4 linked regions of the Homo sapiens genome follow. The protein of the gene in region 2 purifies or fractionates together with the protein of the main gene of each other region. This does not show direct contact. Each region holds a gene or a part of one and is shown on either strand. Other genes may lie near its edges. The genes, in order: DNAAF10, KSR2, MAP2K2 and PPP5C.

Evidence for each region.
Region 1: the proteins of KSR2 (region 2) and DNAAF10 purify together in Homo sapiens (affinity purification with mass spectrometry; 2 studies listed by BioGRID and IntAct, with this or other methods). This does not show direct contact.
Region 3: the proteins of KSR2 (region 2) and MAP2K2 purify together in Homo sapiens (affinity purification with mass spectrometry; 3 studies listed by BioGRID and IntAct, with this or other methods). This does not show direct contact.
Region 4: the proteins of KSR2 (region 2) and PPP5C purify together in Homo sapiens (affinity purification with mass spectrometry; 2 studies listed by BioGRID and IntAct, with this or other methods). This does not show direct contact.

The regions. Positions count from the first base shown.
Region 1 is NC_000002.12:68,154,269-68,161,773, forward strand, and holds the start of DNAAF10 (dynein axonemal assembly factor 10), read right to left. Parts: upstream 3,260-7,505; 5' UTR 3,176-3,259; coding exon 2,993-3,175; intron 1-2,992. Other genes in the region: RNA-binding protein PNO1, read left to right, coding at 3,667-3,873, 4,112-4,261, 7,415-7,498. UniProt on the Homo sapiens protein: Key assembly factor specifically required for the stability of axonemal dynein heavy chains in cytoplasm.
Region 2 is NC_000012.12:117,454,605-117,462,148, forward strand, and holds part of KSR2 (kinase suppressor of Ras 2), read right to left. Parts: 3' UTR 1-7,544. UniProt on the Homo sapiens protein: Location-regulated scaffold connecting MEK to RAF. Has very low protein kinase activity and can phosphorylate MAP2K1 at several Ser and Thr residues with very low efficiency (in vitro).
Region 3 is NC_000019.10:4,113,777-4,121,320, reverse strand, and holds part of MAP2K2 (dual specificity mitogen-activated protein kinase kinase 2), read left to right. Parts: intron 1-3,691; coding exon 3,692-3,902; intron 3,903-7,544. UniProt on the Homo sapiens protein: Catalyzes the concomitant phosphorylation of a threonine and a tyrosine residue in a Thr-Glu-Tyr sequence located in MAP kinases. Activates the ERK1 and ERK2 MAP kinases.
Region 4 is NC_000019.10:46,349,918-46,357,461, forward strand, and holds part of PPP5C (serine/threonine-protein phosphatase 5), read left to right. Parts: intron 1-3,830; coding exon 3,831-4,072; intron 4,073-7,544. UniProt on the Homo sapiens protein: Serine/threonine-protein phosphatase that dephosphorylates a myriad of proteins involved in different signaling pathways including the kinases CSNK1E, ASK1/MAP3K5, PRKDC and RAF1, the nuclear receptors NR3C1, PPARG, ESR1 and ESR2, SMAD proteins and TAU/MAPT.

The sequences.
Region 1 (7,505 bases), on a different chromosome or scaffold from region 2:
CGGAGTCTTGCTCTGTCACCCACGCTGGAGTGCAGTGGCGCGATCTCGGCTCACTGCAAGCTCTGCCTCCCAGGTTGAAGCCATTCTCCTGCCTCAGCCTCCTGAGTAGCTGGGACTACAGGCGCCCGCCACCACGCCCGGCTGATTTTTTGTATTTTTAGTAGAGACGGGGTTTCACCGTGTTAGCCAGGATGATCTCGATCTCCTGACCTCATGATCCACCCGCCTCGGCCTCCCAAAGTGCTGGGATTACAGGCGTGAGCCACCACACCCGGCGTGAAAATACACTTAGTGGTTATTCCTGGCATTGAGATTATGGGTGATATTTTCTTCGTTTTCCTATTTTCTAAATGTTCTATCGTGGACACATATTATTTTTGCTACAAAAGAAAATTATCTTTTTAAAATTTGCTGAAATTCCCCAGAGTCGCTACAAAAGACAAACTACTCTATTCCACTTGATGGAGTAAGTGTACTTTTGAAATACATACAAATCATATATTTTCATTTTATTATTTTTTGAGACAGGGTCTCTCTGTCACCCAGGATGGAGTGCAGTGGTGCGAACACAGCATCCTTGACCTCCTGGGCTCAAGAGATCCTCCCACCACAGCCTCCCAAGTAGCTGGGACTACAGGCTCGCATCACTATGCCCAGCTAATTTTTGTATTTTTTTTATACAAAAAGTAGAGACGGGGTTTCCCCATGTTGCCTAGGCTGGTCTTGAACTCCTGGGCTCAAGCAATCCACCCCACTGCCTCCCAAAGTGTTGGAATTGCAGGCGTTAGCCACTGCACCAGGCCTGTTCTTATTTTAAAAAGTCACAGGTCTAAGCCCTGATCCTGCCACTGCACTCCATCGTAGGCAAGAGTGAGACCCTGTTTCAAAAAAAAAAAAAAAATTTCAATCATGTCCCATTTTTCTTCGAAAAAGGAATAAATGGCCAGGTGCAATGGCTCATGTCTGTAATCCCAGCACTTTGGGAGCCCAAGGCGGGTGGATCACCTAAGGTCAGGAGTTTGAGACCTGCCTGACCAACATGGTGAAACCCCATCTCTACTAAAAATACAAAAAAATTAGTTGGGCGTGGTAGCATGTGCCTGTAATTCCAGCTACTAGGGAGGCTGAGGCAGGAGAATCGCTTGAACCTGGGAGGCAGAGGTTGCAGTTAGCCAAGATCACGCCACTGCACTCAAGCTTGGGTGACAGAGCCAGACTCCGTCTCAAAAAAAAAAAAGAAAGAAAGAAAAGAAAAAGGAATAAATCCTTTAAATACCTTTTCTTTTTAATGGTGGCTCACACCTGATCCAGCACTTTGGGAGGGAGAGGCGGGAGGATGGTTTGAGCCCAGGAGTTCCAGGCTGCGATGAGCTATGACAGTAGCACTGCACTCCGGACTGGGACAGAGCTACGCCATCCCTAAACAACAACAACAAAAAACAAAAACAACCCAAAATGCAATGTAAAGAAATTTTACTTTGTGTAGAAATCAGGAAGGGCATCATACATTAGATAATCTGAACTGAACATTGGAATAGCAACAGGTAGCCAGGCTTGGTGGCTCACGCCTGTAATCCCAGTATTACGGGAGGCCGATGTAGGCAGACTGCTTGAGCCCAGGAGTTGGAGACCAGCCTAGGCAACACGGTGAAACCCCATCTCTACCAAAATAAAAAATAAAAAAATAAAAAGTACAAAAAAATTAGTTAGGTGTGGTGGCACACACCTGTAGTCCCAGCTACTTGGGAGGCTGAGGTGGGGAGGCGGAGGTTGCAGTGAGCTGTGTTTGCACCACAGCACTCCGGGCTGGGTGACAGATTGAGACCCTGTCTCAAAAAAAAAAAAAAAAAAAAAAAAGCCACTGGTTACCAGAAGCTAAGTGATGAACAATACAAGGAACGAAGGAAAGGTAGAAAAAAATAAGCCATGTTTCATGTTTGTCATTCAGGGAAACTTAAAGCGGGATGGGGTCTTACATACTTTCTATTCTAGGCTTAACAGTCCAAATTGTATTCATCCTTTATCTACCAGTTTAATCCCTACCTCCTCCAAGCAGATTCTCTCCATAGGTTTTGATCCCCAGAGTTAACCTACCCTGCACTTGTAGTCTATTACAACCCTGATCTGATAATGACTGATCATTTTTTCAGGTAACAAAATCAACACTTTTTAAAAACTATAAACAGCTATAAAATGCTAGTTACTATCATTATTCTCTAATTCTTTCACTAGTAATCTTCAAAAAAACCTTGCAAACCTAATCTTTCCACACCCTGCTTAAATCCTTTCAGTTGTGTCCGTTTTTTCTTAGAAAAAAGGCATAAATCCTTTGAATGTCCTACAGATCTTGCAATGTCTGGTTCCTGCTTATCCCTCTAGTTTCTTAAGGAGATAAACTTCTTCCCATCACTGAGCTTCTGCATGTGCAGAAGCCCTGGAAACCTTGTCCTTTACTCCTAGTTTGACCTAGTTAGCTTCTGCACATACCAAAATCTGTTTTCATTCATCCCAAATCTGTTTTCACTCTCATTGAACCGTAACCGTGTTCCTTTGTGTGAGACAACTCATCTCGGTTTGTATTTATGTATCGTTGCTTTGATTATTGAACTGAGTATCTCTCCCACTAGAAAATAAACTCCATGAGATGGGGGACATTACCATTCACATCCCTGGGAATACCAGGCACTCAGCTGATGCCTGTCGAATGTGTTAGGTTGCCTCTTCCAACCACACTGCAGGCATCCTGGTGCCCGCTTTGGCTGGACTGCACTGGGGGTGGCAGGACGGTTGGGCGCGGAGGAACTACCCCGCGGATGAGAAGAAAGGTTTTAAATAGGAAACATTCCTCAGTCGGCGGTCAGCTTCTCTGGTCTCGCGCGGCTCAAGCCATGCTTTGGGGGACGCTGGGCGAAGGCTCTGGCAAAGAGGAATGCAGACCCCAGGATCCGCACTCGCCCCCAACGGCAGTCCGGATCCTCGACCCGGCACCCACCTCCCGAAGCAGCTTCAGGTCCCCGTGCTGGATCTCGTACAGCTGAATGACGCCGGTGCCCCGTGCGAAGTTGCCCATGGTCACAAATTTGGCGCTGCAGGGCACCCACTTACAGTCAAACACCGTGTAGTTGAAGCCCTTCTGGATATGGGCGATGATCTGAGGCTTCTCGAAGGCCGACATGGTGCAGCCAATTTCAGCTACGGCAACCGCCACACCCAGAGCCCCCAAAAACGGCAACCTGGAAACCAGACTCCAAACATTGGCAATTTGTCCCTCCCGCTTTCCGTATTCTGCCCCAGATGCCCTGGCATGTTGGCTGTAGTTATCCCCGGATAATGCCAGATGCGCTCCTGCGATCGCACAGAATGTTCCTTCACAACAGCACGAATTTGTTTATCGCCTTTACCCACTGCCTTTCGCACACATACATACTAGAGATTACAAAATACTTGGGCTGGGAGTTGCGCGGCTGGAGTGAGCCCAAGACCATCAGGCATATCTTAGGACAGCCTAACCCCGTTTTCCCCCCCACCGGCCCCAAATCCTGCAGGTCCCCGGCCTGTGACGTTTTAGGAAAGGGGCGGAGCTGCAGGGGTGGTTGGCTGAGGCTGGCTTCTGCGTGGTGCAGCTGCGCACGTGTTTCAGCCGGCAGCGCTTTAAGATTTCCGGGGATGGAATCCGAAATGGAAACGCAGAGCGCCAGGGCAGAGGAGGGCTTTACCCAGGTCACCCGCAAGGGTGGCCGACGGGCGAAGAAACGACAGGCTGAACAGCTGTCCGCAGCAGGAGAGGGCGGGGATGCGGGCCGCATGGACACAGAGGAGGCCAGGCCGGCGAAGAGGCCCGTCTTCCCACCCCTCTGTGGGGACGGGCTCCTGGTATGTGGCTGGGACCCTAGGACAGCAACGAGGCAAGGGCCAGACGCGGATCAAGCCGATGGCCTCTGGAGAATGTTGAAGCTGCGGTGGGGCTGTTCTGCCGTGATGCTCAGAGAGAAGTGATTCTTTGAAGTGTAACTAGTTCAGTTAAAGGAGGCCCTTTGTGGATCAGATGTCATTTTAAACTCCATCACCGTCCCTCCATAGCCTTCTGAGTTGTGTGTTCTTTTATTTACAGAGTGGGAAAGAAGAAACAAGGAAAATTCCAGTCCCAGCTAACAGATACACACCATTGAAAGAAAACTGGATGAAGATATTTACTCCTATTGTGGAACATTTGGGACTTCAGATACGCTTTAACTTGAAATCAAGGAATGTAGAAATCAGGGTAAGGAAAATCTCAATCATTTCCCAATACACCAGGCTTTCTCTCCTACAGAGATGAAAAGGCATGAATAGGCTTTACTTAATGGGACTTTTCTGTTGTATGGTTTTTGTCCAGTTTAAAAATTTACCATATTGAGTTTGAACTTCCCAAATGCCTTAAAAATCTGCATTCGATACAAATATTAATTGAATTTGTAAATTAGTTCTGAGATCACACCAAAATACTGGCTCTTCTTCTGTGTATCTTTTATAATGTTCTATGTCAAATTGAGAAAAGGTCGAGTAAAGAGATTGCCATAAACAGAAGCAGGTAAATAATGAATATAAGCACTTGCTGCTTTACAAGAAGTATATACAGTCAGCGTCGGGAATATGTTCTGGGATATGTTTTGTCAGATGACTTAGTCCTTGTGCGAATATTATAGAGTGTACTTACACAAACCTAGATGGTATGTGTATATTTGTTTATATATTTTTTTCATATGGAAAACCAAATGTCCCAGCACCATTACTGAATATCAGTCATTTCATCTACTTGATCTGCATTGCCGGTATCCAGTGCCATATATCAGGTTTCTGTATATTCTCCATTATACTGTTATGAGACCACCATGGTATGAGCGGTTGGTCACTGATCAAAATGTCATTATGCAGTGCATGACTGTGTTTTAATGGTGCTCTTTTGATTAAAAAATGTATTATTTTGATAAGAAACATGCATATATATGTGTGTGTGTGTGTGTGTGTGTGTATATATATCTTTTTATTTTGCTCTTTCACCCAGGCTGGAGTGAGTGGCATGATCTTGGCTCACTGTTAACAGGTGCCTGCCACCAAACCTGGCTAATTTTTGTATTTTTAGTAGAGACTGGGTTTTAGCATGTTGGCCAGGCTAGTCTCGAACTCCTGACCTCAGGTGATCACATCTCGGCCTCCCAAAGTGCTGGGATTACAGGCGTGAGCTGCCCCACCGAGCCTATGTATATATTTTAAATTCTGTGCTATCAATCCGGGAATTAGACATTTAAATTTACTTTGGGCTTTCTTTTCTGGGTGCCAATTTCATACCAGAATCGATAACCGAAATTAATTATATTTTCCTTTTTAAGGATTCTTTTACCATCATCCGGACTGGTATAGTCTCATCTCTGTTAATGGAATATAATAATGGAACAAAGAAAGGCACTATTCTAAATAGTTGATAAAGTGTAAAATATCATAGAACATGATAGAGTAACTCCTCTTTGTCCCTGTTGCCATTCTCTCATTCAGGCTTTTATGGTTTCCTGCCAAGGAGTGGTTTCGTTGTAGGTTTCCCTTGCTTCATTGTTTGACGTCTCTCCTTTCTCCACTCATCCATCTGCCAGTGCCAGATTAAGTTTCCCAGATCACAATGCTTTTATGACATCCTGGCATCTTCAAAAAACAAAAAAAAATTTTTTTTTTTTTTTTTTTTTTGAGATAGAGTCTTGCTCCGTTGCCCAGGCTGGAGTGCAGTGTCGCAATCTCGGCTCACTGCAAGCTCCGCCTCCTGGATTCATGCCATTCTCCTGCCTCAGCCTCCTGAGTAGCTGGGACTACAGGCACCCACCACCACGCCCGGCTAATTTTTTGTATTTTTTAGTAGAGACAGGGTTTCACCGTGTTAGCCAGGATGGTCTTGATCTCCTGACCTCATGATCTACCCGCCTCTGCCTCCCAAAGTGCTGGGATTACAGGCGTGAGCATCTTCAACATTTCTAAAGGAAAAAGTTTTGGACTTAACTTGCTTTTCAAGTAGGAGACTCAGTCACAAGTTTGTCTCTCACGGATCATAAAGTTTGTTTATGTCCATACTTTTTGGTGGCTTTGGCCTTTGAAAGAGGTCCGCTCCTCCCTACTCCTTTCTCTTTATACTTCAGTTCCAGTATCTTTCCGGGTCTAGCTCAAGTTCTTTCTCTGTTATGGTATGTCCATTTTTCAGTCATATCTTCAGTGCCTAAACTTTTCATGTGCTTTATTGTCCTATTTATTGCAGGATAATCACTTTGGATTCCACTAACATTTGTTGATGCTGCCATATACCAGACACACAGTGGTATTACACCATGCTCTACATCATTTAGTCTTCAGGATATTCCCATCTTAAAGATGTGAGGAAACTTGGCCACAGTCATCAGTCTAATAAGGGAAATTTTCTATTATACTAGTAGGGAACACTCAGGATCTTCTACTCTGACCTCCTCATTTTACTGATGAGAAAACTCAAGACCTAAAGTATCTATGGGACTTGTCTAAGGTCACATATAGGATTGGAACTAGGGTCTAGTTTTAAATGGGAAAGCTCTGGGGACTCTCCCATTGCACAAGCCCATATGGTTTTACATTTGTTGAATACGTGGTCTCTTCAACTAGACTGTGAATGTGCATGGGACAGTGGAAATAACAGTTTTGAAATCAGACCTGTGTTTAAATCTTACCTTTTTTGCTTTTTAGTACTTTAGTTTCCTCACATACGAAGGTAGTCATATCACTTAACATTCAAAGTTGTTGTGAAGGTTAGAGTTATGGTGTGTAAAGCATGTTATTTATAGTACGTGTTATTTACAGTGGTAGGCTTTTTATGAATAACAGTTATTTCTGCATTTCTCAAATAAACTTTGAGGACAGGTTCAGTGCTTCATTCATTCTTTATTTCCCCAATCAGTGCATGCAGGTAGTTAGGCCTGGAGCTGTTGGTTTAAGAAACATCAGCATATAAATGATAACTAAGAAGATTAAGTCAGGAATCCCAGGGAAGACTGCCTTGAGAGAGAAGAGAAGAGGACATTGGGCATTGAAGGGATGGACAGAAGGTAGAGGTTCTTCAGAATGGGAGAGATTGGGTTGTGCCAGAGGAGTCTTGCTGTTAACCCCAAAATCTGATCATATAGTGCGGTTAGTTATTTGACACTCTTTGGGTGGAACAGCCAAGCTTTGGAGCTGGGAACGTTTTGTTTTGCAAATAAAGTACAGCACTTATCTGACCAGAACCTGTGTCATACAGAATATATTAGGGAAAGGTGGTGGTGAAGGAAATTCTCCAATAATGGGAAAGGACATTTCCAGTATTTTGTTAGGACATTTTCTGTTTGATTCTCAACGGTATTTTGTACCCTTTTTTGTTTTTTAACAGACTTGTAAAGAAACCAAGGATGTTAGTGCTCTGACAAAAGCAGCTGATTTTGTGAAAGCTTTTATTCTCGGCTTTCAGGTGGAGGTGAGTA
Region 2 (7,544 bases):
ACAAACCAGCATTTTGCCCATCATACCTGAAATGTTTAGTTAGAGACCCTCAGTGTAGGGTCTTTCCATAAATACATTTCCACGTTCACACATGTCCTTGACCTCAACACTTCAGGGGCCTATTCATAGAGTGATATGAACTGTCCCAGAAAGAGGTTTTTTGCTGAAGAAGGTTTTTTGGTATGGCAAGACAGAACTGGGGGCCCCAGAGACATCAGAGACACAGGTCGCAAGAGTCGATAGAGGGAAAGTGAAGCAAAAGAGGAACAGGAATGAAAAATGCATTAGAGAGAAGGGCTCATGGCCAACCCATCTATAGCCAAGATGCCCATGGACTTCAGGACCCAATGCAGGGCACTAAGAAATAGAGACACATCCTTCACTGTGTGGAGGCAGGCAGAGACAGAGACAGACACAGAGACAGACAGACAGAGAGAGAGAGAGAGAGAGAGAGAGAGAGAGAGAGAGGTCTGTAGAGCCAGAGAGGGATGCAGAGCAGGCCTGAGGTGGCCTGAGTACTGGTCTGACTCCAGCAAGCACAAAACTCTCCTCAGACATCTTCCCCCACAGGACACCAAGGCTAACAGTAGGAACCAGAGCATGCTGGGGAAAGAAGTCAAGGTCTCCACATCTGAGCCAGGGCACCCTCTGTTTGGAGATGGAGACTCCAGGGTCCCAAAATCAGGCTTTGGGGAAAGCAGGGAAAGGCAGGCAAGTGCCAGGGGGCAGGATTTTAGCCACTTGCAGTTACCCTCAATAAATCATGATCTTGCCTCTGAGTCCACACATAGGCTGTTCCTTCTGTCTGACACACCGTTCCCTACCATTCTACTCAAATTTCAAGACAGGGTTCAGAAGTCTCCTCCTCTGAGAATCCTTCCTGGAGGGTCTTTCTCTGGGTTGGGAGCTCCTGTGGGGCCTCGGGACCCTACTGGAACTCCTCCCTCTCTTCATCGGACTCCTAGTACCCTGAAGGCAGCACCCACTTTTCTCCATTTTTTCCAGAATCACAGGAGGCACTTAACAAATATTTACTAAATGACTATATAAAATGAAGATTTGGGGAATGAAGGGACAAGGTTGCTCCACGCTGGGCTCTGCTGAGGGTGTAGTGAATGGGGCTGGGGACATGAGCCTTTGAAATACAAGCAAAATTTTCTTAGAATCCTTCGGCTGCTCAACTGTAGGCATTTGAAATCCACCAATGTACCCAAAAATAGGGCTATGAGGAAACTAGAGGACCGGGGCCCAGAAGCAGTGCCTTGTGGAATATGGGACAGCTATGGGAGCTCATGGAGAACAGAGACTCCAAATTGGATGCCATCTTGGAAGTGGAGTCAGAGAAGCTCATGTGACAGCATGCCTGACATGCCACCATATGGGCTTCTGGCCTCTGTGCTCCAAGCCTTGGGGCTTTATGAGGATTGATTCCAGACGCAAAGTCAGGGTGTGTTTTGATGGGGTGGGGAGTACAATCTATGATATTCCTTGATAGGTTAGGACCGCAGAGGCCCTCAGGAGGAGATAGACTTCCGAAAAGAAGGAAGAAGGAGCCAGGCAAAGATTTATGCATCACACAGTTGGGCAGAAGCCTGACCAAGGACAGCCCCTCCCTTAATGCTCCAGTCGAGCCAGGACTGTCCAGATAGCTTTGAAGGGGCAGGGTGTGCAGTGCTCCCTAGAAGGCTGGCTAGGAGGGAAAGGGGGCCGGGGCAGGGGGCCTCGGTGTGGCAGGGCAAGTACCTTAGAGTACCTTGATGCCCATGCTGTAGCTACATAGCAGTTACTTGAACTTACACAAGTTCATATGTACCCATCTAAACATTATTACTTGTAACACATGTAGAAAAATAAGCAGAGGAAAATGGCTAGAATCTTACAGGACCAATACATTACATTTGTTGTCCAGGACGCACTTAAGCTGCCAATGCCCCAACCTGGGCAGGGCTGTGTTGGGGAGAGGTTGACCCCATCTAGGGCAGAGCCCCAGCCAACTCAACTGTCTTCTTGGAAGGTGTCCCAATTCCCAAAGCAATTTTCCAAGATCTGGTCTTTTGCAGTGCCCGACTCGTCCTCTCTGTTACCCTTCCCAATCCTGGGACTGCCGGAAGCTCCAGGGATTTGATTCTAGGGGTAAAACAGCTGGACCTACAGAGGCCATCCTCACCCACTGCCTGTCTCCATGCCCAAATCAGTCACACGGGACTGGACAGAACTGCCACATCTTGTCCAGACTGTCTATGTTGTTGCTTCATTGCTACCAGAGACAGCCATTCTAACCCGGCCTGACTCTCTTCTTCACAGTGAACTGGGAATTGCAAGGAAGGTAGAAAAGGCCCTTCACTATCTGGGAGACTTTCCTTCCTGGGGAATACAGAAGGGCTTTCCCTGAGTAGCCTCAGAAAGCAACACCAAGATTGCCGGATGCAAGTCTCAAGATTTCAGCTCAGCAAGAGGATCTGCTTCTTAGAAGGGCTGTGGAAGGATGGAGAGAATGACTGGAGATTTCAGCCCCTGTCCGTGCAGACGGTGAAAGGCAAGTCCACATTCTCCTTACCTAGACAGCCTTCAAACCACTGGTGATGCTAACTAGTGCTTTAAAAACCTATTTCCCTGCAATGTTCACTTAAGGAGTCCCCTCCTTGTGTTTTCCTGTTCTCCTCTGATTTCCTTTCTCCCATGGAAGGTTGCAGATGGCAGGATGCTGGATTTGAATCCTAGTCGCGTGGCCTGGAGACAACTCAGGGGACATCTGGCAATGTCTGGAGATGGTTTTGGATGTCACACTTTGGATGTCAACTGGAGGCTTTTGAAATCCACCAACATACCCAAAAATAGGGCTATGCTGGAACTAGAGGACCGTGGCCCAGAAGCAATGCCTTGTGGAATATGGGACAGCTATGGGAGCTCATGGAGAACAGAGACTCCAAACTGGATGCCATATCAGAAGTGGGGGTCAGAGAAGCTCAGGTGACACCATGCCTGACATGCCACCATATGGGCTTCCAGCCTCTGTGCTCCAAGGCTTGGGGCTTTATGAGGATTGATTCCAGACAGCAAAGTCAGGGTGTGTCTGGGGATGTTTTTGGATGTCACCAGTACCAGGTGCTACTGGTATCTTGTGGGGAGAGTTGAGGAAGCTGCTTAACATCCTCCAATGCCCAGGACAGTCGCCACCTCAAAGAATTATCTGGCCCCAAATAGCTCAACAGTACTGAGGTTGAGAAACCCTGGCTTAGAATGAACATCTCTTTATCCTTCTCTTCCTTTAGATCTTGACTTAAATGTCACCTCCTCAGAAAGACCTTTGTCAGCAGCTCTCCCACAGTATACCCTCTCCCATGTTTCTGGTCCCCCGTGAGTTTTCTTTCCATAGATCTACATGAGTTGCAAATTTATATATTTGTGGTTGACTTGCTTCTTGTCTCTCTTCCCCATTGGGCTTTAGGCTTCAGAACAGGTGAGACATTGTATCACTCATCACTGAATGCCCAGGGTCTAACACATAGTAGATGCTCAACAAATCACCCACTGAATGAATGGTTGGTGAAGAAATCTCTGTCAGAGAGGACAGAGGTTCACTGAATTCCAGACAAACCCAGAATGCCAGCATCTGTGTGAGGACACAAAGACCTCTCTTCTACCTTGTTCATCCTGTCGCCCACCACTCAGAAAAGGCCTCTGGTTATTGTTGGCCTGTATTTATTTCCTCCTGATATCCTGGTACCAGCCTTTCCAAAATTCTCACTGTAGTGCTGGAGGTCAGGGTATTTTTAAACTAGAAGAACTAGCCAAGCTGGTTTTTTTTTTTTAAGTGGTGGAAAAGAAAAACTAAGATTTGTTTTTAATCATTAGACTTTCAAATTTAAGAAGGCGCGATGCAAATAGCATGTTGGCATAAACAAGTGCTGCCCGCTCAATGGAGGGAGGGAGCCTTTCTTCTGAGCTAATTTAAGCTAAATACATGGCAGCTATTTTTCATCTCTACAATTGTGCAACTTTCTCCTCAGTTTACAATACAGGGGAGATATTATCGGGCAGAAGTTGGATGGGGGATAAGTGAAGACGAGAAGGAAAAGAAGAGGCAGTGGACAAGAAGGTACTCTCAGCCACCGAGCTGGTGATTAGAGGTATTTCAAGAGCTCAGGAGTAGAGCTGGTGGTCCACTAGGACCTCAAGATCTTATCTGGGTGGAAACTTGATTTTGAGCCTTCCATTCAGGGAAGAAACCAAAGAGCAATTGGAGTCAGGCTCCTTTTCCTGCCCTTTATATGCAGCACCCCCTGACTTCCCAGAAGCCCAGACTGAACAGCAGAAATTTTACAAACCTCCTCAAGAAAGAAAAGCCCTTGCAGCTCTCCTGCACACCACCACGCACACTGTTATTCCTTAAGGCCCCCATATGCCGTGACTTCCAGCCCAGCTGTTACTAGACTGGGCATAGCATTCAGGCCTTGTGGTGAAGCCGTCCCAGAAGATAAATGATTTTTCTCCAAGCAGGCAGATTACCGAGTAGGATCATACACAGAGTCTTAGAGACAGAATCTTTCTTTCTGCATTTTCCAAGTTCCCTAACTGAGAAGAAACATCTGCAGAGCGCTGATAGACTGTCCACCAACTACAGCCCAAATGGCTTGGCTTCTGGAAGTTTCTGAGGCCTGAGTTCTAAACCTACCTCTGCCTCTTAGAAGGGACCTGACTTAGGGGAGTTTATTATAGCTTCCCTCTCTGGGCCTCAGATCCTGCTTCTGTGAAAGGAGAAGAGTGAGATAAGGGAGGGTCACTCATATCCATCTTAAGTGGTAACTCGAATGCCCTGAAGCTACATCTGTGATCAGTGGGAAGGCATGCTGTGATGGATTAGTGATGTCTGCCAAGAGTACAGCAGGGGACACTGGTGGTAGATCCATTACATATTTGTACTCCTTGGACCAGATCTTTATCCTTCTAGATCTTAGAGGTCCTTCTAGATCACCATCCCAATGACTTGGTTGAAGATGAAAACTCAGGTGAAAACTTAACCCTTCTGAGGGTGTTACATCTTATATACTTTTCACATTGGCCTCCAAGCCATGGTATGTTGGAGAAGCCACCAACACACAGCAGATTTGACCCCTCCATTGGAAGACACCATCAGCCAGATGTGGTGTTCTTGTTCATGGAACCACTGTCCACATGGATGGAATCGGGCTCTAAGCTACCTTTCTCATCTCCTAGCAGTGTCTATGAATGCTAGTGGTCAGCTCTTTTCTGTGGGCCAGTACATTGACATTGCCTCCTTCAGTACCAGGTAAGGTATCAAGTCTCATTCACAGAGGTTGACCTTGTTGGAGATTCAGAAACAAGCCTGGGAAAGCTTGGGAAGAACAGCCTCCTATCAGGCATTTAGAGATTCAACCACACAATAGTGTCTTAAAAGTTCTGATAAGTCCTGCAATCAAGAAATTAGTTTCATTTTACCTAAGCATTTCCAATGCATGCTTGTCCCAGGACCCTTTCAATAATGCAAATCCGGCGAGTTTTCCATGGAATGAAAGGTCTATGGGACATGCTTGGGAAACAAGGTCTTATTTAGATCAGGCACATTCTAGACAGAGTCCATCTCCTCCAGCTCAGTCCTCAGTGGAAGGAGGACAGCCATTCTCAACCCCATGAGATGAATCCTTCATATTCTTGGTGTTAGGAAATGGGAGCTGCATGATCCCAATGAGTGGGAAGGAAGGGCCCTTTCCCACCCCTGAGAGGGAAGAGCACTCACTGATGTACGCCTCTCAGGAACACGGGACCACAGTGCAACATCCAGCAGGAGAGACGGAGGGGATAGGAAGCCTGGAGCAGGGATACTGGAGGGACCCAGGAGGGACTCTGCCAACCCAGATGTACATTTCCTGGAAATCCGGGCTGCTGCTGGCAGCCTGTCAGTTTGAGAACATAAGTTCAAGCTTCCGTGCAAACTCCCAGTATGGTCCCTGCCAGCCCCTGCACCCTCCCTTCCACAACTTCCTGCTTTTCCTCTCTCTCTTTCCTGGTTCCAAGTTGCCAATAAGTCTCAGAGGCTGGGATTGTAACATCCCCATGAGCAGCTGGACATGAACCCCTTGACCTGGAGGTGGGTTCCTGGGAATGGATGAGCCCAAAGACTCGTTTTTAAAATGCTGGGTCTGCAATTTGGAGGCTGGTTTCTGTCCCTGTACCACAGTTGCCCCATTGGAACGAGAATAAGACTACTGATCTCCCCAAACCATCATAGGAATTCCAGCCTGGCACGTAGTAAGTGCTCTGTGAATGAGGGCTGTTCAGGGTGGATTGTTACTCTGCCTCCTAGACATCCTGGGCCACCTGACTCAATGGGTCGCTTCATACGTCACAGATATTAAACCTGGCAAACTGGCTCAGCACAATGGCTTAGCCCTGTAATCCCAGTGCTTTGGGAGGCTGAAGCAGGGGGATTGCTTGAGACCAGGAGTTCAAGACCAGCGCGGGCAACATAGCAAGACCCTGTCTGTACAACAAATAAAAAATTAGCCAGGCATGATGGTGTGCACCTGTAGTACCAGCAACTTGAGAGGCTAAGGTGGGAGGATTGCTTGTGGCCAGGAGTTCGAGGCTGCAGTGAGCTATGATCACGCTGTACTCCAGCCTGGGTGACAGAGCAAGACTCTAACTCTAAACCACAACAACAAACCTAACAAACAAACTCATTGGGGTTGATATGGCACCCACAACATGGTCTGGCAAAGGGGAATCCCAATACCATCCAGCCCTGCCAATGGTGCCCTTCTAACTCCCTGTGCCAGGGTCTTACTCTTACCCAGCAAACCTCTCTGTCTGCATTCTGTAAACATTTCTTGAGCACTTACTATGTGCCAGGCACTACTAAGACAAGTCCAGGAGGTCACTGGGACCGCAGATTTTCCATCAACCTCCTGCCCCACTACTGGTTTCAAAACTAAACTGGTAACAGAATGGGTATGGATTGCAGGGCCTCGAGAAGGGAGTCTGGGATTTGGGTTAATATCATAGTCAGGCACTGACCAGAGAGGACAGAGGTTCACTGCGGCTCCACATTCCAGGACCCAGACTGACATTTGCTGCCTGTCACTCCCCTTGGAGTTCAAAGTGATTCCCTTGCAGGTGTGTGCAGGTGAGGGTGAGGTGGTACGGGAGGAGGTGAGGCTGGGAGCCAGGGAGAGTGGCCACATGAGTCTGCCTAGGAACTTCCCCACATCACAGGCAAAGCCAAAAAAGGAAACAGCAAAATGTAGCTCATCAAAATCCACTCCTTTGTCAATGAACAAGAGTATAGATAAAATCAGATGCTGTGTCACCAACTGCTTTGGATAGGGTCATGAGGCACATTCAGGGGTCAAGTGACAGTCCGCTACAGACAAGCCACTTACACACAGGCTGTTCCCATACAGCCACAGAACTGAGATCCAGAGCTGTTGGAATTCAGTGATGGGACGTGTTGATTGGGGCAAGCTTGGTAAGCATGACAGCAACAGCCTGACCTTGTAGACCAGGAATTCTGGGGAATCTATCTT
Region 3 (7,544 bases), on a different chromosome or scaffold from region 2:
TGCAGATTCTGAAGTGAGTGGACCGGAAAACCCTTGTGAGGGGCTGACCCAGTGCAGAAGCTTTGAGGAGGTGGAGGGCGACCAGAGGCCTGGGTGAAGGGATCTGAGAAAGGGGTATGCTGGGGTCCGGGTGGCGTGCTGGCAGAATCGCACTGCTCCAGGACGAGGGAGGGGACTGGGTGTTGGGGGCACACACTGGTGGGGTCATGCCAGGGTGATCTCTGCACTCCCGTTCTGCAGGCCGAGGCAGGGCAGGGCGATCCCCGGGGCCCTTGGCTGGGGTCCGGGTGCCGTGCCTGCGGTGTGACCCCTCAAGAACCAGGTGTCAGGGACTGTGGCATGTCTGGTGGCCTCTCCCGCTTGGGGGTCGGCCTTCTGTGACCCAGATGAAGACTCTTGATGCCAATGTGTGCAAGTCAACACGGGCACAGCCAGACACGGGGACCCGTTCCTCATTCTCTGCACAGAACTCGCCCTTCACATTTCTCTTCCGTGTGGGGTTTGATTCCCATCTCTTGAAGGATTCCCCCAGGAGAGGAAGCTGGCTGTAGGGACGCCAAGGTTTTGTTTTGTTTTGTTTAATAACCACAGTTGGGTTGCCAGTAAATTTAAGATGGATTAGTCAGCTGACTCCAGAATGCATTTTCAATGTTTTGAGCAGTACTTGAGACCTTCCAAGTCTGCCATCAGAAGTGTTCATTCATGGCTGGGTGTGGTGGCTCACGCCTGTAATCCCAGCCCTTTGGGAGGCCAAGGTGGGTGGATTACTTGAGGCCCAGAGTTCAAGACCAACCTGGCCAACATGGCAAAACCCCGTCTCTATTAAAAATGCCAAAAAAATTAGCTGAGCGCGGTGATGCACACCTGTAATCCCAGCTACTCAGGAGGCTGAGGCAGGAGAATCGCTTGGACCCAGGAGGCAGAGGTTGCAGTGAGCTGAGATCGTGCCAGTGCACTCCAGCCTGGGCGACAGAGCAAGACTGTCTCAAAAAAAATAAATATTCATTTATTCATTGATGTTATTCATTCATTCATTCATGTTCCCCTCCTTACCTTCTGTCCCACTCCCAGGGTCTCGCCATTTCTGCTTCTTCTGGGTCCTTGTTCAGCAGCTCCTCAGTGAGCACCTACTAGGGCCCTGTTTCCCCTCATGGGGGACACTAAGATGAGCAGGGGTTGTCCTGACCTCAGGCAGGTGTTGTTACCTCGGGCAGGTTCCCCCACCCCTGTGAGTCTGTTCCCTCCTGCCTGGGCCTCCGGGGACGATGGTGAGAATGGAATGAGATGGTGTTTGTCCAGCCCAGGAAGCGGTGCCCAGGCCCCTGCCTTCCAGCGAGCTCTTTGCAGCACCAGCTCCAGCGCCATCGCCTCGGTTCTGGCCTGTGTGCCCCGTGGCTTACGCCACTTCCAGCTGTAGGCGAACAGTGGTCGAACTTTGGGATTGGAAATTTCCAGATGGAAGGAGCAGTCCACGCCTTCATTCCCTGCTTCAGTCCCCTCTCTGGCTGTCCACCTTGGCTTTAGCTCCTTCCTGAATTGGGACCTCTGGAGGTGGCCTGTTCTTCCAGAGAGCCATTTAAAGCTGCACTGCCTGGTTGAGTAGCCCCTGGCTACAGGCAACACATAAAACAAGAATTGCCCAAACCCACGAGAGCATAGGCGCAATAATGCCATTGTAGATTTCAAAGGCTTAAGACGGAAACAGTGTGAAACATTCATTCATTTTTCATACTGGTTGTACGTTGAAAATGATAACATTTTTGATGGGTTAAATCAAATGTGTTATTAAAATTAATTTCAGCCAGGTGCAGTGGCTTATGTCTGTAATCCCAGCACTTTGGGAGGCCAAGGTGGGCAGGTGGCTTGAACCCAGGAATTCAAGAGCAGCCTGACCAACATGGCGAAACCTTGTCTCTACTAAAAATACAAAAATTAGCTGGGCGTGGTGGCGGGTGCTTGTAATTCCAGCTACTTCGGAGGCTGAGGCAGGAGAATTGCTTGAACCCGTGAGGTGGAGGTTGCAGTGAGCCAAGATCACACCACTGTACTCCAGCCTGGGCGACAGAATGAGACTTTGTCTCAGAAAATAATAATAATAATAAAAATTAATTAATTAAAAAGAGCCAGACATGATGGCTCACACCTGTGATCCTAGCTACTAGGAAGGCTGAGGTGGGAGGATCACTTGAGGACAGGAGTTGGAGGCTGCAGTGAGCTGTAATCGTGCCGCTGCACCCCAGCTTGGGAGGTAGAGCAGGACCCTGTCTCTAAATAAATGAAGTGAGTTCACCTGTTCTTTTTAAACATGGGTACTAGAAGATTTTAATTTGTGCGCATGGTTTACATTCCATTGCTTGTGCACAGCAATGGGTTCCTGTGTGCATTGCGCTTAGTTGTCTGTTACTCCAGGATCTGGTTCTGAGTCAAGGCATTTGTGAAAATAGCTTACTGTCGAAATTTCCTCTGAAGATTCCTTGAATCACCCAATAAAGTGCAATGTACTTGCTTGTTTAAATTGTTAGAAATTTTTTATTGTGTAGAAACAAGGTCTTGCTCTGTCACCCAGGCTGGAGTACATTGTCACGATCATGGCTCACTGCAGTCTCGACCTCCTGGGCTCAGCCTCCTGAGTAACTAGAACTACAGGCATGAGCCACTGTGCTCGGCTATAGGTCTCACTTTGTTGCCCAGGCTGGTCATGCTTATTTTTTGTTTTTTTTGTTTTTTGGTTTGTTTTGTTTTGAGACAGAGCCTCCCTCTGCTGCCCAGGCTGGAGTGCAGTGGCAAGATCTCAGTTCACTGCAATCTCCCCCTCCCGGGTTCAAGCAGTTCTCGTGTCTCAGCCTCCCAAGTAGCTGGGACTGCAAACGTGCACCACCGTGCCTACCTGATGCAGCTTTTGTGCTGAGCCTTCTGCCCTCTACTCTTGGTTCTCATTCTGTGCTCTGAGGCTGCTCAGAACGCTTGTTCCTCTATCTCCTGCAAAGACAGACATCTTGGCCCGGGCTCCGTTCACCCGATCCCAGCTTCCTCGTCTCCTCCCGACATGGTCCGGAGCTCGTGCGTTAGGAAGGAGGTCTCCCGGCCGCGTGCAATGGCTCACGCCTATAATCCCAGCACTTTGAGAGGCTGAGGCAGGCGGATCACTCAATGTCAGGAGTTGGAGACCAGCCTGACCAACATGGCGAAACCCTGTCTCTACTGAAAATACAAAAATTAGCCGGGCATGGTGGCGGGAGCCTGTAATCTCAGCTACTTGGGAGGCTGAGGCAGGAGAATCTCTTGAACCCGGGAGGCCAAGGTTGCAGGGAGCCGAGATCGCGCCACTGCATTCCAGCCTGAGCAACAGAGGGAGACTCCGTCTCAAAAAAAAAAGAAAAAGAAAAGAAAAAGACGGAGGCTTCCTGGGTCCTTTGAGCTGCAGCTTATCCTTGAGGTCCTGAGGTCTGCTAGACTTGTTGAGACAGGATCAAGGCAGCGTCCTCAGTTCCCGGGGAGCCGCCCTGGATTCTGGTCATTGGTGTGTCTATGGGGGTACACAGCATGGATCCTTTCCTTCTACACCATGAACCCCTCAAGTGCAGGAATCCAGTCTGTGTCCTCCTGGGGGCCGATGCACCACGGCCACATAGCAAACGGCCAGATGGAGTCTCCCTAGGTAGCTAACCCCTACCCTGGGGGGTCTCTGCAGGGCAAACCTGGTGGACCTGCAGAAGAAGCTGGAGGAGCTGGAACTTGACGAGCAGCAGAAGAAGCGGCTGGAAGCCTTTCTCACCCAGAAAGCCAAGGTCGGCGAACTCAAAGACGATGACTTCGAAAGGATCTCAGAGCTGGGCGCGGGCAACGGCGGGGTGGTCACCAAAGTCCAGCACAGACCCTCGGGCCTCATCATGGCCAGGAAGGTGAGCACTGCGGGGTCGGGGAGGTCGGGGAGTGGTGGGGAAGGTCCCCCTGGAAACAGGAGGCAGGTTGGGAAGGCAGCCGGGTCTCTGCATTCTGATTAGCTCCAGGCTCTGTCCCTCATCCCCACCAGGGACTCTAGGTCCTGAGAAAGGGCCCAGCTTCTGGGCAGATGGGAGCCGTGCCAGCCACACCAGCCACACACAGCTGTGCCCTCCAGTGACTACTTTCTGCCCTGGAGGGCACTTGAAATCCATATTCCCAGAAAGCTAGCACGTGGGGGTTTCAGAAATGCGAGTGTGTTATGGTTCTCCAGAGAAACAAGCGATGAAGACGAAGCGTGTGTGTGTTTGCGCCTATGTGTACAGCCACCTCAGGGCGATGGCTCAGCCAGTGACAGACCGCCTACGCAGCGGTGGCGACGTAAGATGATCAGGCCATGTTTTTGCTGTGCCTTCTGTATGTTTATTTTTATTTTTATTTTTACTTTTTGAGACGGGGTCTTGCTCTGTTGCCCAGGCTGGAGTGCAGTGGCATGATCTTGGCTCACTTCAACCTCCGCCTCCTGGGTTCAAGGATTCTCTTGCCTCAGCCTCCCGAGTAGCTGGGATTACAGGCACACACCACCAGGCCCAGCTCATTTTTTTGTGTTTTTAGTAGAGGCAGGGTTTCGCCATGTTGGCCAGGCTGGTCTGGAACTCTTGACCCCAGGTGATCCGCCTGCCTCGGTTCTCTATATTTAAATAAACAGACAGCAGCTCAGCACTGCGCTGTACAGAGCATGGGAGCCTGGGTGTGGAATGGGCTTTCCAGTGTTTGCACAGTGACGACATCGCCCAGAGAGGGATTTCTCAGTGTATCCCTGTCCTTAATGATACTTGAGTGTATGTGTAGAGAGAGATTTATTCTAAGGAATTGGCTGGAGTGCAGTGGTGCGATCTTGGCTCACTGCAACCTCTACCTCCTGGGTTCAAGGGATTCTCCTGCCTCAGCCTCCCGAGTAGCTGGGATTACAGGTGCATGCCACCACACCCAGTTAATTTTTGTTTTTTTAGTAGAGATGGGGTTCACCGTGTTGGCCAGGCTGGTCTCGAACTCCTGACCTCAAGTGATCCTCTTGCCTCGGCCTCCCAAAGTGCTAGGATTACAGGCATGAGCCACCGCGCCTGGGCAGGCTTTTCCCTGAAGGCCTTCAGCTGATTGGCTGAGACTCACCCACCCTGGGGTGGAGTAATCTGCTTTGCTCAGAGTCTGCCAATTTAAAGGTTAATCACATCTTAAAAACATACCTTCCCAGCAACCTCTAGACTGGCGTTTGACAACTGGGCACCGTGGTCTCACCGAGGAGACACACAAAGCTGACTGTCACCCACCCTTTGAAAGTCTGCAAGCCCTGGTGCTGACGGCCCCCGTGCTTAGTCATCCCGGGCTCCTGGGCCATGATGCAGCCTCTGTGCTCTGTGTTTGAGAATAGTGCCCAGGGGATACAGGGAGGATGTGACCACTTGGGGACAGTGGCTCTTAAACACAGAAGTAGGGGACTTAGTGTTGACAGGGTGTTCAGCTCCTCACCGGTGTTCTTTCAGACCTAGAACGCTGCCTCTTCCTGGAAGCCCACCATCCTGTAGTTCCCCAAACTGGGGGAACGTGACTGCACCTAGTCCCGTGGGTCTGCGCAGGTGGCAGCAGTGCTTGAGGGCCCTGCCTTCCTCGGGAGCAGCGGCTCAACTCCTGCGGGGATTTAGCTCTGCAGCTCTGTCTTCTGGCCTCTAGAGTGCTGCCCTCCCTCCCTCCTGAAGTGTGCAGCCGCGGACTTGCTATTTCTGTCCCCGTACTGCAGGCAGCCTCTTCCAAACCGGAGCAGCCTTGGAAAGCTCAGGTCCGCCTCCGCCCGAAGCACTGGGTGGAAAAAGGCAAGCGTGTGGTTCACACAGCCACAGCAGGGCCTTGAGACAGTGCCAGTCCTCGTGTGTGCCAGGGACCCTCAGGCTTCTGGGGGAGCCTCCAGTGGTCCCTGATGGGCTGGGCAGTGGACATGAACCCAATGCTTGCTGTATCAGCAGCTCCTGCTCCTGCTGACAGGCGCAGGTGAAGCCGGGCCCACCTGCAGCTTTACTGTAGCGGGGAAAGGGAGATCGGGGCCTTTGAACCTGAGGGCAGGCGTGGCTGGGCAGGTTCTGTGGTCTGGTGGGTGGAGATGTCCCAGCATCAGCTCTGGGTGTCAGTACTGTCCTTCCGTCATGTAAGATGTCAGTCATCTTGGGGGAGGCGGGGAAAGGGCGCACGGGACTCTCGTTACTATTTTTGCAACTTCCTGTGCTTCTATAATTCTTTCAAAATTAGGTTTTCTTTAAAGTGCCCGAAAACTCGGGTGGGAGAGGATGCATTGAGCTCGTGGGCTCAGCGGCTCTGGCTGCTATGCAGGTAGGGCTGCAAGGGCTCCTTTCATTTCATCTTATTTATTTACTTATTTTTATTTATTTATTTTTTTGAGACAGAGTCTCGCTCTGTCACCCAGACTGGAGTGCAGTGGCACAATCTCGGCTCACTGCAACCTCCACCTCACAGGTTCAAGCGATTCTCCTCCCTTAGCCTCCTGAGTGGCTGGCATGCCTGGCTAATGTTTGTATTTTTAGTAGAGACGGGGTTTCACCATGTTGGCCAGGCTGGTCTCAAACATCTGACCTCAAGGAATCCATGCATCTTGGCCTCCCAGATTGCTGGGATTACAGGCGTGAGCCACCGCGCCTGGCCCAGTCTCGGTATTTGAGGTCATGCTGGTTTGTAAATGTCTTTTTGGCTTGACCGTGGCCTCTGACCCCTCTCCCATTGGAGCAGCGTCCCCGCGTTACCTGGGCCAGGGAGATAGGTGAAGAACTTGCTGCTTGTTACGCGTGTGGGGCTTCTTTGAATTGTCCATGCTCATAGCAGAGATGAGAGTGTTTGTTCTCGCCTCTGAGTTCCTCCACTCCGCTGTAGCTTACTTCCAGGGTGGCGGTCACACGGCCTGCCCAAGGCCACCTCACAGTACCAGCTGCTGTCTCACAAGTGACGACCTGAGTCGAAGCCGCTGCCAACACCTTTGACGCGTGTTCTCATTAAAATTGAACAGCAGCCTCGTTTTACAGTTGAAGAAACCGAGGCTGTGTGGGGTCAGTGCCTGAATCGGATTCGAACCCTCTTGGATCTGCTCGGACTTGGGAGCAGCTGCCGGGGCTGAGCCTCCAGATCCACTGCACTGCGGTCCCCTAGCTGGCCACCGCTCCCAGCCTGTGTGTTAATTTTTAAAATCTCTTGTAGAGATGAAGGCTTGCTACGCTGCCCAGTGTTGAACTCCTGGCCTGAAGCGATCCTCCCGCCTCAGCCTCCCAAAGCACTGGAATTACAGATGTGAGCCACTGCCCCGGCTCTCTTCCAATTTTTGACAACACCTAATTCAGGATGTTTGGAAGCGCAGTGTGGGCTGCACGTGACTCTTGGCTACATCCAGCTTGGGAGCTGTCAGTTTCTGATCCATGATTTACGAGGTTGCTGAGATCATTCCAGGCCTGCGGGGTGGCGGCCGGGGGGCGGCTCGGTCCTCCTCTTCCCCTCCTGCTCTCGCTGACACTCAGTGAAGCTCTTTCCTCTCTTTTCCTACTCCG
Region 4 (7,544 bases), on a different chromosome or scaffold from region 2:
ATAAGTGGGGCCACAGCGTAGGAGGCTGGAGGAGGTTATGATGAGTTTGCAGGGAGTAGATTGCGCAGGGCTGTAGGAAGGAGCCAGGGCTTTCTGGGGTGGGGTGGCGGTGGGGGGTGGGGCTCTGGGGAGCCCTGGGAGGTTCTGAGTAGGGAAAGGACAGGGTCAGGTTTGTGTTTTAGGAACACCCCTCTGGAGGGGCAGGACAAGAGGCTGCGAGGCCAGGTGGAGGCTGAGCCAGGAACCTGGGCAGGAGAGGCCAGACCAGGGCTGGGTGGGGCTGGAGGGTGAGAAGGGAGTGGCTGAATCTGAGAGATGTTCAGGAGGCTGACTTGGCAGAATAAGTGAAGTGACTACCGGGCTTTGGGGGCTGAGGGATGGAGAGGAGTCCAGGATGAGGCTGTCTCAGCCAGGTGATGGGGTGGAAGGTGGAATTCCCTGGGATGGGAGCAGCCTGCATGGGGGTTGCTGCTGAGGCCGCATCAGAATTCTGGGCCACAGCAGCCATTGGGAGGAGCCTGTTGCCCCCCAGGACCTGGGATCCAGGCTCTCAGGAGTCCTGGGGCTGGGCAGGCAGCCAGAGGGGCCTGGCACTGAGCTGGCACGGAGGAGAACGGCCCTGCTGGCCCAGGCCCCTTGCTGTCTGTCAGGCAGTAGCAGGCACAGAGCCCCAGGCTCCAGGGCTGTGGGAATAACAATAAAAAAGAATAATGACAGCTCACCTTAATTGAGCCTTGTGGCCAGGTACGCTGTGGGGTTTAATCCTCCCCGGGGGCTGGGAGATGGCTAGGAGTGGCCCTGTTTGTTTTATAAAGGAAGCAAGGCTCGGAGAAGTGAAAAAACCACTCGCCCAAGGTCAGAGTGTGTGAGCAGCAGGGCCCGGATATCCCCTTCCTCGCCACGTGCTTGGCTCCCACGTTCAGGTTCCTCCCAGAGCTGTACTGGCCCTGTTGAGGAGAAGAGGGGCCCCAGCAGGGAGAAGAGAGGTCCCAGGGCTCAGAGGACTGTCCCCTCAACTGTGGCTGGTTGCTCTGTAAGTTCAGGCCTATTCCAGAAATCCTGGGGGCAGAGCCTCGTCCCCCGTCTCATGTCTGAGTCTAAGGGAAGTGTCTCAACTGTCTTCCCCTCTCTGTGGGCCTCAGTGCCCCGCTTCTGTAAAATGGGGGGTGGGGGCTTATGCTTAACCCCTAAGGAGGCTCCAGGTATAAGAGCTTGTGGGGAGGAAGCAGGCCATGGTTGAGAGCTCAGGCTGCCTGGGTTCAAACCCTATGTCTTCCTTTACCTGCTTGATGACGCCTGGGCAAATGACTTAACTTCTCTGGGCCTCTGTTTCCTTGCATCTAAAATGGGGAATGTCTTGAGGCTTAAATATGGTCCTGTTTGTAAAGCGCATAGAACAGGGCCAGGATATGGCATGTGGGTCGACCCGTGGAGTACAGGCTCCTCCCATTTCCTCTTGTTCCCTTCACTTCCTCCCTTCATTTAGTCATTCACGCATTCACTTCTTTTGCCTGCTTCTTTTGCTGCAGCCAGTTTTCTTACACAAGTTCGTAAAATCCTCACGGCCACCCAGTGAGGCAGAGCTCAGAAAGAGGAGGCTATTTGCCTGCAGCCTCGAGTTAGAGATCTGCAGAGCCGGGTGGCAGGCCCTGAGACTCCAGGATCCCCTCCCTGTGCCACTGGAGTAACAGCTGCCCCATCAGGAGCGCGGGCCAGGCAGCCTCTGGACCACAGCCAGGAGGCCTGAAGGAGTCCTCAAAGGCGCTGGCATTCCAGGGAGGGTCGGTCAGATCTGGGCTGCCCAGTTCTGCCCTTGTTTGTTTTTGGGAAGTCCCGGGCCCTGCCCTCCTGGGGCTTACAGCTCTGGAGGGACACACTCATTACTCAACAGTGACGATGAGAGTGGACAGGGCTGGCACAGGAGATCCCAGGGGCTGGGGCAGCCCAGTCGGGGGCCTGACCCAGCCTGGGAGTAAAGGAGGGCTTCCCGGAGGAGGGGACATGTGAGCATTTGAAAGATTGCCAGGAGTTGGCGTGGCAAAGAGGAATGTTGTTAGATTGTTGCTGGCCACATCCCCAGGACCCGGCTTCTCCCTTCTGTAATGTCAGTCCTCATCTCTCTCTGCATCCCTCCTTCCTTTCCCTCTGGAGCCACTCATGGAGCCTGGGACTCTCTTCTTCCATCTCTTCAACCAACTGACTCCCATCCTCCAGGTCTCAGCCCCAGTGTCCCCTCCGAGCTGCCCCAACCCTAAACACTGGGCACCACTGTCTAGGGATGGATCTGTCTCCTCCACTGGATGGTAAGCCCTGGGAGGGCAGGGCTGTGTGTAAGAAGGACTCTCGGAGTGCTGTTGAGAACATTAAAATGGGAGTGAGGGTGGGGACTCTGTGCAGGGCTGCTGGTAGAAGGACTCTAGGAAACCCTAGTCCACAGGGGGTTCCTCAGTAGCCCAGGGATACCCAGGTAGTAAGAGGCAGAGCTAGGGACTGGGCCCAGGCCACCTACTCCTGCCTCTGTGCTTACCCCTGTGCCACGCTCCTGCCCAGAGGTCACCATGGCATGGGGCGTGAGAGTGGGAGCCTTTTGGTCTTGGCCTGGCTCAGAAGGCCCACTTCTCGGCCAGGCGCTGTGGCTCACGCCTGTAATCCCAGCACTTTGGGAGGCCAAGGCAGGAGGATCACGAGGTCAGGAGATCGAGACCATCCTGGCTAACACGGTGAAACCCCGTCTCTACTAAAAATACAAAAAATTAGCCGGGTATAGTGGCGGGCGCCTATAGTCCCAGCTGCTCGGGGGGCTAAGGCTGGAGAATGGTGTGAACCTGGGAGGCGGAGCTTGCAGTGAGCGGAGATCGCACCGCTGCACTCCAGCCTGGGCGACAGAGCGAGACTCCATCTCAAAAAAAAAAAAAAAAAGAAGGCCCACTTGTCACCTGCTGTGTGACCTTGAGCACCGGCCTTTCTTCCCTGAGCTTCAGTCCCCAGATTTGGAGACGGGGGTTAATGTAGTTTCCCTGGGCTTGTGAGAGTTCAGTGAAGGGGGACCTGTGTACTAAAGCCCTGCATGGCTCTGGTACATCACGGCCCCCAGTGGGGACAAGCCTCTAAGGCTGTTTAAGCCTTGGCTCTCCTGCCTGTCAAATGGGCACGAGGGAGGGATCAAGCCTGGCTCTGCAGGTGCAGACAGGGCATTTGACCTTGAGCAAGACCTCCATGGCTTGTCTGTAAAATGAGCACCAGATGGTCCTTACTCCCGTGGAGACATGAGGATTCCACAGGTCACGAGGTAAAGTGCAGGGTACAGCTATAGCTCATCTCAAATAAAATCCGACCTCTCCTCCTTGGCCAGATGTCACATCCTGTCACTCCACACTTAGAACATCAGTGTCCAGACCTCACTGTGGCTGCCCGGGGCCCAGGGATCTGTCCCACCAGCCTCCCTGCCTCATCTCTCCTCCCCCTGCCCACTCCACCCAGCTGCCTCAGCTCTCACTGGCCCTCAGACAAGGCTCAACCACCTCTGGGCCTCTGCACCTGCTCTTCTTGCTATCGGAGTGCTCTTCCCTCAGTCTGCTGCTAGTGCCCAGCTTGGGGCTGGAGGGGTGGGTGGGCGGGTGTGTGGAGTCCTGGAGACTGTGGCCGAGAGGACAAGCCCTGAGCTAGGTTGGTTGGGACAGGCAGGAGGGGCAGGCTGAAGAGATGTCTCTGGGCTCAGGGTAGCCCTCAGCTTCCCCATCTGTGAACAGGGAGACTGGGCGTCACCCAGCCCAGGGCCTGTCCTCGCAGGGTTGGAGCACTGCCTCATGCCTCTTCTTCTGTCTCCGCAGCCAAGGACTACGAGAACGCCATCAAGTTCTACAGCCAGGCCATCGAGCTGAACCCCAGCAATGCCATCTACTATGGCAACCGCAGCCTGGCCTACCTGCGCACTGAGTGCTATGGCTACGCGCTGGGAGACGCCACGCGGGCCATTGAGCTGGACAAGAAGTACATCAAGGGTTATTACCGCCGGGCTGCCAGCAACATGGCACTGGGCAAGTTCCGGGCCGCGCTGCGAGACTACGAGACGGTGAGCTGGGGAGTGGGCCAGGCCTGGCACCTGAGCCAGGCAGATACTGAGGGCTGGGCTGGCGGGGACGGGTGTGAGGAGCCATTCACTCCTCTACTTACCACTCAGCCAGCCAGCAAGTGCCTGTGGGGCCTTGGGCCCAGGCCAGAGTACCCAGGCCACAGCTCTGCTCAGCCATCTCACATTTTGTGACCCTGAGCCAGTTACCCCGCCTCGCCACACCTTCCTTTCCATATCCGTGAAATGAGGAGAACAAGAGGATCAGCCTCAAGGGTAGCGGTGAGGAAAAGTGAGCTTTTGCCTTTCACACGAGTAGACCAGTACTTGGCCCGGGGTCAGTGTCCTGTGATGGTTCACCTGATGGTTACTGTCATTGTTAGTGCTGGTGCTGGACAGGAGCCACACAGCCTCTCTTCTTCTGGTGGAGCTTGTCTTTCAGGGGCAGGCAGAAAACCCACCACTGAATAGGTTAGCAGAATAATTGCAGGTGAGGATCTGCACTTTGAAGAAAAGAGGAAGGGCAGTCGGGCACAGTGGCTCACGGCAGTAATCCCAGCACTTTGGGAGGCCAGGGTGAGAGGATTGCTTGAGCCCAGGAGTTTAAGACAAGCCTGGGCCACATAGGGAGGAGACCTCATCTCTACAAAAAATACAAAAATTAGCCAAGCGTGGTGGCACGCACCTTTAGTCCCAGCTACTCAGGAGGCTGAGGCAAGAGGATTACTTGAGCTCAGGAGCTCAAGGCCGCAGTGAGCTATGCTCTCACCACTCCACTCCAGCCTGGGCGACACAGTGAGACCCTGTCTCAAAAAAAAAAACAAGAAGGGTGATATGCTGCCAGGGACAGCAGACAGGATATGTGTGATATGCTGATGAGGGAGGGGACCTAGGGCACAGTGAGAATTCGCTAGTGCCCTCACCCACCTAATGAAAATCCTGACGGTATGAGGCTCTGCAGAGCGAGCACACACCTTCACACCAGGTGTGCTCTGCATCTTCCTTCAGGGAGGCTGGCTGAATCATTACAGCACCCTGGGACGTGGGAACTGGGATTACTCCCCTTGCACAGATGAGGAAACAGTCCCTAAGGGGTGAAGTCACCTGCCCAGTGACCCCCACCTGGTTAGTAGCAGAGCTGGGATTTGAACCCAGGAGGCCTGGCCTCAGGGCCTTATCTCTCCCACCTCAGAGTTCGCTCCCTGAGACGGGGCCGTGCGCTTGTCCTGCGCATGGGGATGGTGCAGCAGGGGGCTTGGTCAGTGTGTGTCGAGAGGATTGTTATCCTGCCCCCCGACACAGACACACTTCACTCCCTCCTTCCCTTGCAACCATCACACTCGGAGCTGCTTGTGTCGTGTAGGGAGGGGCAACCAGGGAGCTGGGAGCCGCGAGTCTGCAGTTGGTCGCGGGGCTGAGAAGCACGAGTCTGCAGTCGGTGGAGCCAGCTCAGACACTGTCCTGGCTGTTGGCCGCTGGCCTGGGGTGGAGGGTGGACTTCAGGCCAGGTGAAGGCTTGAGCTAAGCATGAGTCCAGGGGACACATGTTAGGATGGGGGCAGAGATGTGGCGGGGGGTTAGGGCGACACCTAGAAGGGTGGGGGCAGGGGCAGCAGAGCAGAGGCCTTCCCAGCTTGGGCTCCCAAGCCATTCTTGGCCAAGCCCCTCCCTCATTGTCTCTTCCTGTCCTAATCTAGAAAATGGTGACAAGAGGAGTGGCCGCCTCCGGATGGCTGTGGCTGTGATGACATGGTTGAGTAAAGGTCACGAGCTGCAGGGCTCAGTAATGAGTAACCAAGGACAGTCGGTGTTGGGTTGGGGCAGGGCTCCAGGTGGGAAGGGGGCCTGGGGAGACAGTGGGGCAGAAGAGAGGAGCCCCAAGGACAGGTTTAGGGCAGGGTCTTCATCTCGTGTGGGGCTGCAGGAGCATCTTTCCCCAGGGTAAGGAGCAGGGGCTGCAGGCAGGGTCTTCGTCAAGTGTGGGGCTGCAAGAGTGTCTTTCCCCAGGGTAAGGAGCAGGCTTTTCAAGACTCTGGCCCAGTCTAGGGCCCAACCCCGCATACTCCCAACCCCGCATACTCCCTGAGGCTGGGCTGGTTGGCTTCAGCCATCTTGTGGGTGTGCCACGTCTGAGCTGTGTCCCAGGCCTGGCGGATGGCAGGGAGGGTTGAGGGGGTGGGGAATTCAGAGTCTTTTACAGAATACCCAGCACCTAAATTGTCATGGCCCATTTCCCCATGGGGGCTCTCCCAGCAGCATTGGGGACCCCCACATGAACATGAGGGCTTACCTGTCATCAGGCCATCCATATGCCTGCAGGCCTTCAGCCTTGCTCCTTTCTGCGCAGTTCTTCAGGCTCCATGTGCCCTGGGGCAGTTCATCTTCCCAAGACTCTACCTCCTGCTTGCTGGATGCTAGAGTTTCCTCCTAGACCAGAAGCTCGCCAGGGAAGCAGAGCAAAGACGTGACCTTGGCCTTGGGCGGGGGAGCTCCCCTTAGCCTCGGTTTCCTCAGCGGTCTGCTCACTCTGGGCCCAGCACTGCTGGGAGCCCTTTGTGCACCTGAATTCAGCCTGAATTCAGACTGAGGCCTAGAGAGGAGATGTCCCTCCTCCAAGGTCACCCAGCAGGGAAGTGGCAGAGCTGAGACTTGAACCCCTAGTCCATGCTTGTAACTGTTTCTGGGCCACAATCAGTTGAATAGCTTCAGCACTTTTGTCTTCATCAAACAGAGAATTAAAAACGGTTCATTGTTTGGAGGAAGTGTGTATAAATATTGTTTTGTGGAAATGACTTTTCATTTACACAAGTACAGATGAGTGATGGATGTGATATAAAAATCCCTATTTTACATGTGGGCTGCAGGCAGAGAGTCTGCGGTCACCAGTGCAGGGGCTAGATGGGGCAGGCTCTGGGCTCAGGACGCCTAGGTTCACAGCCAGCTCAGATTGGGTAGCAGCTGCATGGCTCCTAGTGCCTTTTTTCTCAGCCTTAGTGTCCTCATCTGTTAAAGGAGGTGAGAATATAGGAATAACAACCAAAGTGTTTTTTCTTTGTTTTTGTTTTTTGTTTTTTGTTTGAGAGAGAGTCTTGCTCTGTCACCCAGGCTGGAGTGCAGTGGCACAAATCTTGGCTCACTGCAACCTCTGCCTCTTGGGTTCAAGCGATCCTCCCACCTCAGCCTCCCAAGTAGCTGGGACTACAGGCGTGTGCCATCAAGCCCGGGTAATTTGTGTAATTTTTGTGGAGATGGGGTTTCACCATGTTGCCCAGGCTGGTCTCAAACTCCTAGGCTTAAGGAATTTGCCCACCTTAGCCTCCCAAAGGGCTGGGCTTACAAGCATGAGCCATGGCACCCGGCCCCAAAGTGTTTTTTCTATTCTCTCAGTCAACAGTTACACAGAAAATTTCTGTGACCACTGGTCACGAAAGGGAGTGGAGGTCTCTCCCTACCGGCAACCAAGCAGTCGATTCTG